Regions from separate parts of the Homo sapiens genome. Here region 2 is linked to region 1. The links come from fine-mapping of genetic effects on gene expression. Tissue or cell type: whole blood. Region 1 holds a variant in brackets; the other region holds the start of a gene. All regions are shown on one strand. Distances are from middle to middle.

The links. PIP is the estimated chance that this variant, and not a neighbour inherited with it, causes the effect.
Region 2: it holds the start of TUBGCP6, and the variant in region 1 is fine-mapped to the expression of TUBGCP6 in whole blood (TOPMed, PIP above 0.99). The same link has a PIP of 0.9 or more in spinal cord, testis and thyroid.

The regions. Positions count from the first base shown.
Region 1 is chr22:50,215,934-50,223,535 of GRCh38, forward strand. It overlaps SELENOO (selenoprotein O), which reads left to right. Exons shown (of 9, transcript NM_031454.2): 7 at 758-943; 8 at 1,039-1,195; 9 at 1,272-1,683. The coding sequence ends at 1,436. It overlaps TUBGCP6 (tubulin gamma complex component 6), which reads right to left. Exons shown (of 25, transcript NM_020461.4): 14 at 6,521-6,659; 15 at 6,095-6,169; 16 at 4,318-5,941; 17 at 4,024-4,082; 18 at 3,711-3,858; 19 at 3,355-3,523; 20 at 3,135-3,276; 21 at 2,770-2,964; 22 at 2,555-2,687; 23 at 2,256-2,469; 24 at 1,985-2,184; 25 at 1,761-1,894. The coding sequence ends at 1,803. Among named protein-coding and RNA genes, the nearest start is that of SELENOO-AS1, 9.6 kb to the left of the region's middle. RefSeq lists an enhancer at 3,662-4,304. The variant A/G (reference allele first, on the strand shown) is at 4,139.
Region 2 is chr22:50,240,965-50,247,587 of GRCh38, forward strand. It overlaps TUBGCP6 (tubulin gamma complex component 6), which reads right to left and starts at 4,059. Exons shown (of 25, transcript NM_020461.4): 1 at 2,755-4,059. The coding sequence starts at 3,495. HDAC10 (histone deacetylase 10) reads right to left here. Exons shown (of 20, transcript NM_032019.6): 15 at 5,911-6,002; 16 at 5,715-5,771; 17 at 5,334-5,412; 18 at 4,946-5,128; 19 at 4,711-4,863; 20 at 4,219-4,566. The coding sequence ends at 4,543. RefSeq lists enhancers at 441-740, 2,648-3,578, 3,152-3,431, 3,842-3,891, 6,566-6,623 and a silencer at 4,362-4,431.

The sequences.
Region 1 (7,602 bases):
CTGGGGGAGAAGCTAGAGACAGAGCTGGCTGGGGCCCAGGTGGCTGCTCCGCTCCCAGGGACAGATTCAGTCAGGGCTTCAGGGCATCTCTGCGATGCTGGGGCCGGTTGGTCACAGAGTAGAGAGTGGCGAGGCTGACACAGGTGTGGGGGCAGACAGTGGTCTCTGCTGTGGGTGGGCTTCAGAGAAAGCCTCTGGGTTTCTAGGGAGAATGGGCTCCCAGAGGTCAAGCTTTCCCACACCATCTTCCAAAGGGAAGGGCTGCCCTGTCTGAAGAGTCCCGCCCACGTGCAGGATGAGACGTGGAAAATATTGTTGCTTTAACTTAAAAAACAAGACCAGTGGGGTTGGCTGGGAGCACCGGCCAGCAGGCCCTGCTGAGCATAAACCCCCTCCACTGGAGAAGGCGTGGCCCCTGCCCACCTGGACCCTTCTGGAAATGAGGGAAGTGCTAACAGCAGTGCCCATCCCACAAGCATTAAACTCGGGAGGTGGAGACTCTCCAGCAGAAAGCTGGGCAGCAGAGTGGTCCTGCCCCTCGGCCCACAAAGGGCCTTGGCCGAGCATGGGCATGCCTGGTGTGTGCCCACTGGGGTCCATCCCTGCCAGTGGGGTTCCAGGGACCTCGGGGACCGGGCTGCTTGGGCCCTTGGACTCTAGGTGAGCCGTGAGAGCGGGCTGGGGCAGGCGGAGCAGCTGCCTGCAGGGCAGGGACACGGTCAGGGGCTACCTCCCAGACACCCTGGCCTCTCCACAGGCAGCTATCCATGATGCTGATGCTGGCGCAGTCAAACCCGCAGCTGTTCGCGCTTATGGGCACCCGGGCAGGCATCGCCAGGGAGCTGGAGCGTGTGGAGCAGCAGTCTCGGCTGGAGCAGCTGAGTGCGGCAGAGCTGCAGAGCAGGAACCAGGGCCACTGGGCTGACTGGCTACAGGCGTACAGGTGAGCCCTGCGTCCATGGTCACCGGGGGACGGCGGGTCGCGTGCTGGAAAAAGTCCAGCCCGGCTGTGACTCCAGAGCCCGGATGTCATTCCAGAGCCCGGCTGGACAAGGACCTGGAAGGCGCTGGGGACGCTGCCGCCTGGCAGGCTGAGCACGTGCGCGTGATGCACGCCAACAACCCGAAGTACGTGCTGAGGAACTACATCGCGCAGAATGCCATCGAGGCTGCCGAGCGCGGGGACTTCTCAGAGGCAAGCACACGCCTGTCCCTGTGGTCCCTGGGAGGGGGGTCGGCCCCAGACCCCTCTCACCCTCCTGATCCTCCAGGTGCGGCGGGTGCTGAAACTACTGGAGACCCCTTACCACTGCGAGGCGGGGGCCGCCACAGACGCCGAGGCCACGGAAGCCGACGGGGCGGACGGCAGGCAGCGCTCCTACAGCAGTAAGCCCCCGCTCTGGGCAGCAGAACTGTGCGTGACATGATCTTCGTAACGGCCTCGGCACGCTCCACACCCCTGGAGTCTCCCGAGGCCCCCATGTGCTGCTGAGTGGCCAAGATGATGCCAGGCTGCCCTATACACTGGGGGATTCTGCCCTGGCCCATGCACACCCGTCTTTCCATGATGGCAGAGACATCCAGTCAGGACCTGACCCGTCTCTGTCTGAGGCCGGCTCAGCAGTGCAGCCTGGTCCCTGGGGGCTGGACCCAGGCTCCTAAATAAACCAGCAACTCCCTCGAGTCTGTCTCTGTGGTCATTGTTCCCCCACCCTGCCCTGTCCTCAGCCCCCACCCAGGAGAGAGAGCTGCAGACAGGGTCCGAGAACACCTTTATTGTGCACGTCCCCCGCAGAGCAGCCTCAGGCGTCCTGGTAGTAGTTGTTGAAGTTGATGCGCAGCAGAAAGTCCTCCAGGTGGGGCTGGTAGCCGCGGTTCACCAGCTTGGTCACCACTGGGGACCAGCGAGCAGCTCAGGCTTTTGCCCACAGTGTGAGCCCCGCCCTGGCCCCCCCGCAGCCCTCCCAGCCAGGGTGGGCCTCACCTTTGAAGAGAAAGTGGGAGTAGTACTTGAAGGTGTTGTAGGACTGCTGCATGAGTGCAAAGTTGGGGTGCTCTGCACCCCGCGGGCCCCCAGGGGGCCCCCAGGCCTGGGAGATGAGCTGGCTGCGGAACTTGAGCACGAGGCTGAAGATGCTGTGGATGACGTTCATGACGGGCGCCGCCTTCTCCGTGAGCAGGCCCCTGGGGGGAAGCAGTGCTGCTGGGTGGGCTGAGCCGTGACCACAGGGACGCAGCCGCTGCCCAGGCCTCACCTGAAGACGGCCTTGTGCAGGTACTCTGCGTGCGCACGCTGGATCTCCTCCAGGTCGCCCACGGTGGCCAACCTGGCCCTGAACTCGCACCAGGTGACGTGCAGGATCTGGTTGGCGATGTAGCCCTGGATGACCTTCACGAAATGCTGCATCTCGTGCTTGAACAGCTGCAGCTGACGGAACTGCACAGAGCCGGCCATGTGGCTCAGCAGGGCTGGCGGAGGGCAGAAGGCAGAGGGCAGAGGTGAGCGCAGCCTCCAGCCAGGGGTGCGGGGCGCCGGGCTCCAGCGGGGCCTCACCTGTGCGCTTGAGGTGGAAGCAGACGTCCTTGAGCGCCCACATCATGAGCTTCAGCTGCAGCAGGAAGGAGAAGACGCCGCTGTACTTGCTCACGCAGCCCTCGGTGATGACAATGTTGAGAGGCCAGTCCACCTGCCAGGAGGCGTGGCTCAGCAGGCATCCCACAGGCAGGCAGGCCCCTGTCCCATCCCCCGCGGCCAGGGCTGCTGCTGACCTTGTACCTGAGCTCCAGGCAGCTCAGCACATCCGGGGCGTTGGGGGCAAACACCTCGGGCAGGTACTTGAGAGCGAGGGAGAGGTTGGAGGCGTGCGGGGTGTCCCCATGCAGGCTGCACTGCAGGGCCTTGCTCAGCACAGAGTTCAGCACCAGCGGGTTGAGCAGCTCTCCGGGCGTTTGCCCAGCTCCAAGCTAGGCAGAAAAGGGACCACCGTCCCCAGGAGTCCCAAGCACATGCCTGGCACTCGCCGGCACCCCATGGGGCTGTGCCAGAGCAGCAGGGGGCTGTGGGCGTGCAGCCAGTCTCTCTTTTCCCACGGCCTCCCCTCTACCACTGGCCCCACCCCGTGTCCGGAGGCCACCTTCTCAAAGAGCAGGTCGCTGAGGGACTGGGCGAACTCGCCGTCCTCCATCAGCAGGAAGTGCCGCAGTGCCTCATAGTGCGCCTCCAGGTGCAGCTCCACGAAGAAGTAGTCGACAGCGGCCTTGTTCACCAAGGAGATGCTGGCAGGAGGGAGCTGGAGTCAGGGCGGGCCAGGACGGGCTGGGTGGGCAGACTGGCGCAGGGGCAGGGGCACTCACTGGGCGGCCAGCGGTGCCGTGATGGAGCGCTTCATGAGCACGGGCAGCGTCAGCAACTCGCTCAGCTGCACAGCAGTCTCATCAGCGGCAGACTGGACCTGGGGGTCCACGGGGAAGGCGAAGGCCCGGGGAAGCACGGGGCGCAAAAGATGAGCAATGGGCGGCTCGGCTGCGGGAGATGGAGCACGCACGTGCTGGGAACCGGCCAGCCCAGGGCTCCGCCCCCATCCACAGGAGATGGAGCACGTGCTGGGAACTGGCTAGCCCAGGGCTCCGCCCCAACCCACAGGAGGTGGAGCACGTGCTGGGAACCAGCCAGCCCAGGGCTCCCTGCCAACAGCAACTGCTGCACTCACACATGGACTCGTAACTGTCCGGGTACCGCTCCAAGTGGTACTGCCCTGCCAGGCCTGCCAGGTAGGCCTGCTCCCCACCCTGAGCCTCCGCCGCCGATGCCTCCGCCTCCTCACCACGGCCTGGGCTGCTCTGGGCAGCTGTGTCTTCCTAACAAAACACCAGCCTCAGAACCACCTCCCCACTGCACGCTGTCCCCACAACCAGCTTGTGCCAAAAAAAGGAAAATCGCATGTGGGACCCACCCGCGTGACAACCTAGAGGGACAGAGCCCTCCCTGCCTGCTGTGGGACCCCCAGGCTGCATCCACCTAACCTGTGAGTTGAGAGGCCAATTTGGAGAGAGGTCCTCAGTGTCCCCGCTCCTCCCAGGGCCTGTGTGGACACAAGTGGACACGAGGGCATCAGGGCCGAGTGCCTGTGGCGGGTAC[A/G]GAGCCGAGCCGGCCCTGGCTCAAGCAGCCCCTCCCATGTCCCCCACAGCAGCCCAGGTCCTGGCTGACAAGGAGGCCTGAGGGGAACTTCACATGCCACCAACCCCACTGCCCGCCTACCTCCCAGGCTCTGTGCGTCCCACAGTCCCACTCCTGACCACCAGCCACCCTACTCTGACCTAGTTCTTCAGAGACACTGTCTCCCGGGGTGTTGGGCCACCATGGTTGGGTGGGAGCCACGTCTGACACGTTCTCCCCCACGCTGATGCTCCCCTCCCCGCAGCCCGAGCTGGGGGAGGACAGAGATGGCCCCACTTCTACAGGCAGCCGTGGCCCACAGTCCAGCACAGTGCTCTGTGCTCCCAGGCTGAGCGCTGACTGGGACGTGTGGCCAGGGGGGCTCTGTTGGGGCCTGGGTGTGTTGGGCTCAGCTTCTGGTGAGAGAGCCCCCAGCACCATGTGGGGCGGAGGGATGGGTACATGGGTGTTCCACCGTGGCCGGGTGGAAACCACATCCGACACAGGCTCCCCCAAGCTGATGCTGGCGTCGGACACGTGTCCATGGGTGTTGCACCGTGACCGGATGGGAGCCACGTCCGATACGTTCTCCCCAACCCTGATGCTGGTGTCAGACACATGTCCGTGGGTGTTCCACCGTGGCCGGGTGGGAGCCATGTCTGACACAGACTCCCCCAAGCTGATGCTGGCATCAGACACGTGTCCATGGGTGTTCCACCGTGGCCGGGCGGGAGCCATGTCTGACACAGACTCCCCCAAGCTGATGCTGGCATCGGACACGTGTCCATGGGTGTTCCACCGTGGCCGGGTGGGAGCCACGTCCGACACGTTCTCCCCAACCCTGATGCTGGCGTTGGACACGTGCCCGTGGGTATTCCACCGTGGCCTGGTGGGAGCCACATCTGACACATTCTCCCCGACCCTGATGCTGGCGTTGGACACATGTCCATGGATGTTCCACCGTGGCCGAGTGGGAGCCACATCTGACACAGACTCCCCTAAGCTGATGCTGGCATTGGATACGTGTCCGTGGGTGTTCCACCGTGGCTGGGTGGGAGCCACATCTGACACATTCTCCCCGACCCTGATGCTGGCGTCAGACACGTGCCCGTGGGTGTTCCACCGTGGCCGGGTGGGAGCTATTTCAGAAGCGTAGTCCCCTGTGGGAAGACCACCCCCTGACACCTGCCCAAAGAGCCGCTCTGTGGGCTGGCTGCTCCCCTCCTCCAGAGCAGCACGCCTGGGTGGGTGTGAGGGGAGCAGAGTCTCCCGCGAGGCGGAGCCACAGGCATCCATCTTCCCACAACTGTCCTCCCACAGCTGTAGCCCTGAGCTGCCCAAGCTGCACTCTGCAGCCTGCAGGGGCCCTGGTGCAGGTGAGGTGGCCACAGCTGGCCTCAGGACAGTACTAAAGTCGTACTCCTGTGGCCTGGAGGGCTGAGTGCTGGCTGCTGCGGGTGCCTCCCCAGGAGCTGAGGGGGGCAGGTCCAAGTTAATGGTCTGCAGCGCCACCTCCAGGAGAGGGACCATGCCAGTCTGCACGGACGGCTCAGCCCCTGGGCCCACAGGTAGGAAGTCTCCAATGCTGAGGCTGTCAGAGAAGGGTCTGGCCCCCTCCGCCTGCTGCAGCCCCCTGCCACCAGCCCCCACTGCTAGAGGCTTAAGGGGCTGTGGGGTCAGCAGGCCTGGCCTGTTCCAGCCATCCCAGGCAGGCGAGTGTTGCTCTGCAGACCCAGAATCACAGCCTTGGCCTCCCTCTGGGTGCTCAGGGCCCGGAGACGTGACCTGAAACACAGGTGACATCAGACCCAGTCTGGTCTCAGGACCCCCCAGCCCTCGAACTGTCCCCCAAGTTCAGCTCTGCAGCCATGACCAACACCAGGTGCCGAGGGCTATGGGAAAACCATAGGGCACCCTGGGTTCCACTCTGCCGCTTACCTGGGGGTGCACGCTCAAGAGGACGTCTGGCGGCTCCTGGGGCTGGTGAGCCTCAGACACTGCTTTCAGCATCTCCTGAAATTCAAGCCAGAGGGGTGACTGGCCAAGCCGGAGTCAAGCACAGCCCTACCCCACACAAAGCCACAGCCCCTACCGCCCATGGCAGCCATGTGCACTGAACCAGACAAGGCTTGTGCTGGGCTCCAGTGGGACGCTGGGCCTGCAAAAAGTACTCCAAAACCACGAGCTCCTCACCACCTGTATCTGTGCAATTTGGTGGCACACGGGGAGAGAGAGTGCTCTGCCGCAAACGCGAAAGCCACCAGCCCTCTCCTAGAAGAGCATGTAGGTTTGTGTGCAGTCTCAGGGGGTTTCCAGACCCCCAAAGCCCAGGGGAAGAGCTGCCATCTGAAGCCGCAGACATACCTGAATGTGTTTCTCATCTTCTAAGAGAAAACGAAGCCGTGCACTCTCCAGTCGGTGCCTCTGGATTCTCCACAGTGCCTTCTGCTCCCGACGAGCTGCCTCTGCAGAGAGCTTGCTGTAGTGGTCGACCAGTGCCTGCCTGAAGCCACACACCAGAGAGGACACGGCCACAAGAGTCACCCCACCCCATCTACCTGGCACCCCTCAGGCCAGGATGGTTCTCCATAACAGAGGCCCCAGTGGGCCCCCGCCCCCGTCTCCCCCTACCAGGGGCTGATAGCTCTGGGCCCTCACAGCACCTACAGGGCAGCACCAGGCAGGCCCTTCTACCTGCCAGGCTGGGAGACCCTGGTGAGTCAGCGTCCAGCCAGGGCTCAGCAACATCTGCTGGACAAATACCAGAATGAGATCCTGTGTGGCCTGAAGCAAGGGGTGAGCAGGAGGCCGAGGGCCCCAGGCCTCTAAGAAGTTAGGCCTCTTCCCCTTCTACAGGTACAAACCTGAGAACTGAAAACTAATGCAAAAAAGCACATGAAGCAAAACCAACACAAACGCTTTATTTGCTGAATTCAAAGCCTGCTTCACCGATCGTGCCCCATGATTTTGAGCTTCTCACCAGCAGGCAACTGGGCTCAAACCTGGACTGGCCAGCTCTAATTTGGCTGCCACAGGCCAGAGACGTAGTGTCTAGGCCTGGTTTTCTCCATGTGTTAACAGGACAGTATCGACTGACATACATGCATGAACACGTACTCATGCATAAATGCATACACGGACACACGTGCACACAGGCACGCGCACCCCTCCACACACATCCCTCACTCGCTCCATAAAGAGATCTAAGGTTGGGACCTACAGCATCGCGTGGGGCTGAGCAGGAAGCGGCCAGCCCCTCCCGTGAGGGGCTCTCTCCAAAACCCCAAACAGCCCCTTGAAGGATCCAGCACTACTCAGCCTGGGACAGCCTGATGACAGCACAGGACAGGTTGATAACAGCACAGGGAGACAGACGCAGATGCTGTGCTGGACAAATGCCCTGTCTCAGCCGAGCGCGGTGGCTCGCGCCTGTAATCCCAGCACTT
Region 2 (6,623 bases), 25 kb after region 1:
GGCGACAGAGCAAGACTGTGGGCAGCAAGCCACCCAGGTGCCGAGGCAAGAGACCGAGGGCACGAGCTGTTCTAGTACAATAAAATATATAGAACAAGAATAGTTACACTATAGATCATAAATATGATTATATATGAACGTTATTAATCATTAGTTTGTAGCAATTGCTCTTTATTCCAAGATTATAATAATCTTCGCTCTACAATTGTAACTTACGAGAAACCAGGCCATACAGAGACAGGAGCTGAAGGGGCAAGGTGAGAAGTGACCAGAAGACAAGAGTGTGAGCCTTCTGTCATGCCCAGACAGGGCCACTAGAGGGCTCCTTAGTCTAGTGGTAATGGCAGCACCTGGGAAGACGCCCATTACCTAGCGGACCTTGGTCTAGCGGTAGCGTCAGTGCCTAGGAAAAGCACCCACTACTTAGCAGACCAGGAAAGGGAGTCTCCCTTTCCCTGGGGGAGTTAGAGAAGACTCTGCTCCACCACCTCTTGTGGAGGGCCTGACATGACTCAGGCCCACCCGCAGTTATCCAGAGGCCTAAACGTCTCCCTGTGATGCTGTGCTTCAGCAGTCACACTCCTAGTCCACTTTCATGTTCCATCCTGTACACCTGGCTCTGCCTTCTAGATAGCAGTAGCAAATTAGTGAAAGTACTAAAAGTCTCTGAAATGCAGAAATAATGGTGTAAGCTGTCTCCTCTCTCTCTGCTTCGGCTGCCAAACAGGGAAGGGCCCCCTGTCCAGTTGACACGTGACCCACGTGACCTTACCTATCATTGGAGATGACTCACACTCCTTACCCTGCCCCTTTTGCCTTGTATCCAATAAATAACAGCGCAGCCTGGCATTTGGGGCCACTACTGGTCTCCACGTGTTGGTGGTAGTGATCCCCCGGGCCCAGCTGTTTTTTCTTCTATCTCTGTCTTGTGTCTTTATTTCTACCATCTCTGGTCTCCGCATATGGAGAGAAAAACCCACAGACCCTGTAGGGCTGGTCCCTACACAAGACTCCATCTCAAAAAAAAAAAAAAAAAAAAAAAAAAGAACAATCAGGCCGGGCTCACGCCTGTAATCCCAGCACTTTGGGAGGCCGAGGCGGGCAGATCACGAGGTGAGGAGATAGAGACCATCCTGGCTAACACGGTGAAACCCCGTCTCTACTAAATATACAAAAAATTCGCAGGGCGTGGTGGCAGGCACCTGTAGTCCCAGCTACTCAGGAGGCTGAGGCGGGAGAATGGCGTGAACCTGGGAGGCAGAGCTTGCAGTGAGCCAAGATTGTGCCACCGCACTCGAGCCTGGGCGACAGAGCGAGACTGTGTCAAAAAAAAAAATCAAATAAAATAAAAAAATAAAAATACAAACATATAAAATACAAAAATTAGCTGTGTGTGGTGACGCACACCTGTAGTCCCAGATACTTAGGAGGCTGAGGCAGGAGAATCGCTTGAACCCAGGAGATGGAGGTTGCAGTGAGCCGAGACCACACCACTGCACTCCAGCCTGGGCGACAGAGCAAGACTTGTCTCAAAAACAAAAAACAAAACTGCTGTACACCAAGACATTTGCTGTAGCATTATGTATGTTTCTAAATCATCTAGCTATCGCATAAGAATAGAACGACTAGTAACAATGTATCCTTTTGGCAACACTGATAAAGCAATAAAATACAAAACTCAAATGAGGAGCTACAGCGTACCATGGTAAAGCCTCAGGCGACAGACAGCAAAAACATATCCAATTGCACGAATTACAGAACATGAACACTTTTGCCACACGTGGCTACTGAGCACTTGAAATGTGGCTTGTGGGGCTGAGGAACTGAGTATTTTATTTTGTTTTAATTAACTTCAATTTAAACGGCAGCTCTAGAAGGCAGAGGTGGCTTAACGATATACCCCATTAGGTAAAGATGAAAAGCAGCATGTTGCTTTGGCCGGCAGGTGGGCAGCACTGTCGCTGCAGAGGAGGGTGGCCGCCAGTAAGCCCACTCCAGCAGCCCCACCTCAGGACAATGCAGCCACCAGACTATCCCCCCTTTTACCATGATAAAAGGAAGGTCACCGGGCCGGGCACAGTGGCTCATGCCTGTAATCCCAGCACTTTGGGAGGCCGAGACGGGTGGATCATTTGAGGTCAGGAGTTGGAGACCAGCCTGGCCAACATGGTGAAACCCCGCCTCTACTAAAAATACAAAAATTAGTTGGGCATGGTGGCTCACGCCTGTAATCCCAGCACTTTGGGAGGCCGAGGCAGGCGGATCAAGAGGTCAGGAGTTCAAGACCAGCCTAGCCAGCATGGTGAAACCCCATCTCTACTAAAAATACAAAACTTAGCTGGGCGTGGTGGCATGCACCTAAATCCCAGCTACAGCTACTCGGGAGGCTGAGGTAGGAGAATCACTTGACCCCGGGAGGCGGCGGTTACAGTGAGCCGAGATCGCGCCACGGCACTCCAGCCTGGGCAACAGAGCAAGACTCCATCTCAAAAAAAAAAAAAAATTAAGCCGGGCGTGGTGGCAGGTGCCTGTAATTTCAGCTACTCGGGAGGCTGAGGTACGAGAATTGCTTGAGCCCAGAAAGTGGAGGTTAAGGTGAGCCAAGATCGCGCCACTGCACTCCAGCCTGGGTGACAGAGTGAGACACTGTCTCAAAAAAAAAAAAAAAAAGAAGAAGAAGAAGAAGAAGAAAGGTCACAGGAAGCATTTTCCAAACCCCGAGAGAGATGAAAGAGGAAAAACTAAACATTCTACCTTAATAGCCAGCCCAGAGAGGTCCGCATTGTCTGGCACGGGGGGCAGGCCCAGTCGGACGTCCATGTCATAAGTGCGGCTGTGCACAAGGGCCCCGAAGAGCGAGACCCGGGTGTCTCTCTCGAACCTGTCACCACAAGGGTCACCAAATGAGAAGAGCCCGACGGTGGGCAGGCCAGTGCCTGGAGCAGCCTCCATAACCTGAAGTGTTTCCTGGATCATGCTGTGACACAAACACTCTTCTCTGGAGATCAGAGACTGAACGTCCATCTCAAACACACTCAGGTCGTCGCAATCATAGCCGCTGTACGGAACGTTTCTCCCCACATGCTTGTTGTTAAGGAAGTAGTCTCGTTTTCTCGGCAGAACTTGAGGGGGACCACTCCCTGCCAGCTGAACCAGGAGGTCCAAAACAGACCCCACCTCCAAAAGCGGACAGCAAGGGGCTGCTTCCAGCTCCTCCACAAGCTCCTCCAAACGGTCGGCCTTGGGGCCCAGGCCACCCACTCTCAAGTCAAAGGACAACATGAGGATCTTGTTTCTCGCTGGTAGTTTTGACATGTCAGGCTGCAGCTGTTGAGTCTCATCTTGAAAAAGATTTGTGAAAAGAGCATTGTAGGCCACCTTCTTGAGGCTCCGCTTTGCCCTCTTCCGGTTCACACTGCGCTGGCCCAGGTGAGTCTTGGCAGCCGGCAGGAGGGCCTCACACAGGTCGTCGAACAGCTGCGTGATGCTGGCCATGCCCCTTCTCAGCTCCGGGCCCCCGGCGTGTGGGAAAACACCTCACCCGGGCTTCACTCACGCTCCGGAAGACAGGGAGTGAGAGAGGGTCCGAAGAGGCTGAATGACAGGCGGCCTCTCCAATGCCGAAGCTCAGAACTGGTATTTTTTAAAGGAGGTCTTGCGGTTGCTCTACTCAGAGTAAACACGCCCTGCCCTCCCCAGTCCAAGCACGCTGCCCGGCGCCCGGCAGCCCACCAGAAGCCAGCTCGGCGTTTCTTCTAATTCAGTAGCCCTCAACCTTTAGGGAGTCACAGAACCGTGGCAAAACCGAAGAACGAAACGCGCGCCCGCGCAGTACAGCGGACGAACTCGGCTTTGCACCCGTTCTTCGGGACCCACGAGAGGAGACGGCCAGGAGAGGGTGCCACTCCGAGGGTCGTGGGCAGCGGAGAGTCTGGGGGCTCAGCCGGGTGGGTCCCGGGTTCTGGCCTGCACGTCCACCCGTTCTCCAGGCCTCACCCGTGGAAAGTGCCCACGGCTGCCGCTCTCGCCGCCTCCGTCGCGTCACAGCCGCGCCAGTGTGAAGAGCACTAGGGCGGGCGCGCCGGAAATACGTCACGGGAACGCCGGCAGCGCGTGAAGTTGGTGAGGCCTGGGCCGCGGCATACTTCCGGCCTGAGTCCGGCACCGCGGGTGAGAGACCGAGGCCGAGCGTGCTCAGTAAAGGAGGCAGAGCCAGCGTTTCGTTTGAGCGATGTTTACTAACGGCGCAAGGGCGGGGAGCGAAGCGCAGCGGGGCGCAGGGGCCGGAACGGGACCGAGCGTGGGTTGCATGGGCCTCGATGGGACGGGCCGGGGCGCGATGGGTGGGGCGGGGGCGAGGTGAGGTGAGGGGTGGAGCGGGGGAAGCACGGGTGGGAGAGGGCGGGGCGCGGGGATTGGGAGTGGGCGGGGTTCCGTGCCCCAGAGTCGAGGGAGCCGTGGGCTTGGGGTCCGGATCGCGGCCGCGGGGCGCTGGCGTGCGGTGTCATTTCTGCGGTGTAAATGCTCCCACCTTGGCCGATTTCAAGCCACCAGGTGAGGATGGCACTACAGGAGGAGCCGAGAAGAGGCGCGCAGTTGGCCTCCGGCGCTGGAGCTGGTTCAGGGCACTCCCCTGCCCTGCCCTCCCCACCGATCTGTGCGGCAGAGCCAGGCCCCAGGGCAGGGCCATGCCTCCGCAGTCAGCCTCACCTGCAACATCTTCCACTGAGGCTCCAGCTGCCCTCTCAGGTACATCAGGGCCTGGACGTCCTCTGGGGAGGCCACAGAGGAAGGGCCTAGGCTAGGAGGTGCCTCTCCATTCAGCACCCGGGCCAGGATCCCTGCTAGCTGGGGTGTGGAGTTCTGGACCAGGGGCGAAGACGGAAGCAGTCACTGGTCCTTTCCCTCGTCCCACCCCGCAGCACCTCCACCCTGCCCAGCTTACCTCCTCCAGGAGGGCCAGGACTCGGCCCCCTGCCAGCCCCCGAAGCATTGCAGCCAGGAGTGCAGCGTGGGGGCCCTGCAGGCCATGGCCAGGCCCCAGCGCCACCAGCACCAGGTCAGGCTGGAAGCCATAGGCCAGGGGCAGCACCAAGCCCAAGATGCAGCTCAGGAAACCACCGGTCATCTGTGGGGACAGCAGAGCCCAGCTCCTCATCTACGGACACCTGCTGGCTCTGGCCTCCCAACCTCCCAATCTCAGGGCCCCTGGAGTAGGAGCAGGGAGACAGGAAGGACCAGAGGCCTGCTATCATGACAATGCCAGCAAACAGCAGCTGTACACATCCATGGGCTCCCCAGCACCTGCCTTGCCGCGTGGCATGGTCACTCACCACTGGCAGTGGCGTGGAGACATGGAACATGGATAGGGCAGCCGCCTCCTTGCCCCTGATGTTCAGCCACAGACTCCTCCTTCCAGGACACAGGTGCATAAGTGTAAGGCCCTGCTCACCCTCCTGAGCCCAAACCGCAGAGGCAGAGGTGGAAGAGCATTCACGGGGCCATGGGCAGGGGTGCTGTGACTGCTGAGCCTCTGTGCTGGAGACCCACCTGGCATTGCCTCCAGCAGCCCTTCTCCCACACCCCAGCTGAGGAAGGCTCCATTCAGTACCACACAGTGCCCCACCCACCCGTCACCCTGGGGCCCAGGCACACGTCCATCACATGCCCGTCCACATGCATGGCTGGACATATGCAAGACCTGAGAGTCCTACCCGTCATGGGCGAGGTCTGGAGGCCGGTCCAGCTGTCCCAGGGCCACGCACAGCAGCCTGGAAGAAGAGCTGGCCTCAGGACAGGTGTTCATGTTGTCCAGAGTCCATTCCCAGAACTCTCTGTGCTTGGCCAGCCAGGATAGGGGTGCCCACAGGTCCTGCCGTCAGAGGCTCAGGATGGCCAAGTGAGGCTTACCTCTGGGCTCCGTGGGACAGGCCTCTCCGAACAGCCACATCCAGGGTGGCTGCTGCAGCAGAGGCTGGAGTGGCTGCTATACCACTGTTCACCTGTGGGATGAATAAACAGTGGAGAATGAGGCACCAACCAACTCCCAAGCCAGGTAAACAGATCCACAGTTCCCTTCATTCGGTGTGTCTCTGCGGCTACTGTCAGCCACACATCTTCTTACACTAAGGTCAATCACTCCATTTCTGTAAATAAGATGCTTACGTCTATAATTTTTTTTTTTTTTTTTAGAGAGGCAGGGTCTCGTTCTGTAGCCAGGCTGGCGTGCAGTGGCGCAATTGTAGCTCACCACAGCCTCAAACTCCTGGGCTTAAGCGATCGTCCTGCCTCAGCCTCCTAAGTAACTACAGGCACACACCACCACGCTTGGCTGACTTTTTTATTTTTTGTGAAGACAGGGTCTCCATATGTTCTCTAGGCTGGTCTTGAACTCCTGGGCTCAAGCGTTTCTCCCACCTTGGCCCCCCAAACTGCCGTTATTACAGGCATGAGCCACTGCACCCTGCCTAAATGTATACTTTAAATCACCCCCTTCACCTCTCTGCCAAAGAGCATTTAACTGAAGAAGCTGAGGTCAGAGGTCAGACACACTAGTGATCCCCACCCCTGGGGCTGTTCTGGGAACAGTTCCTGGCACAAGGCAATGTTCACATCCATGTGGT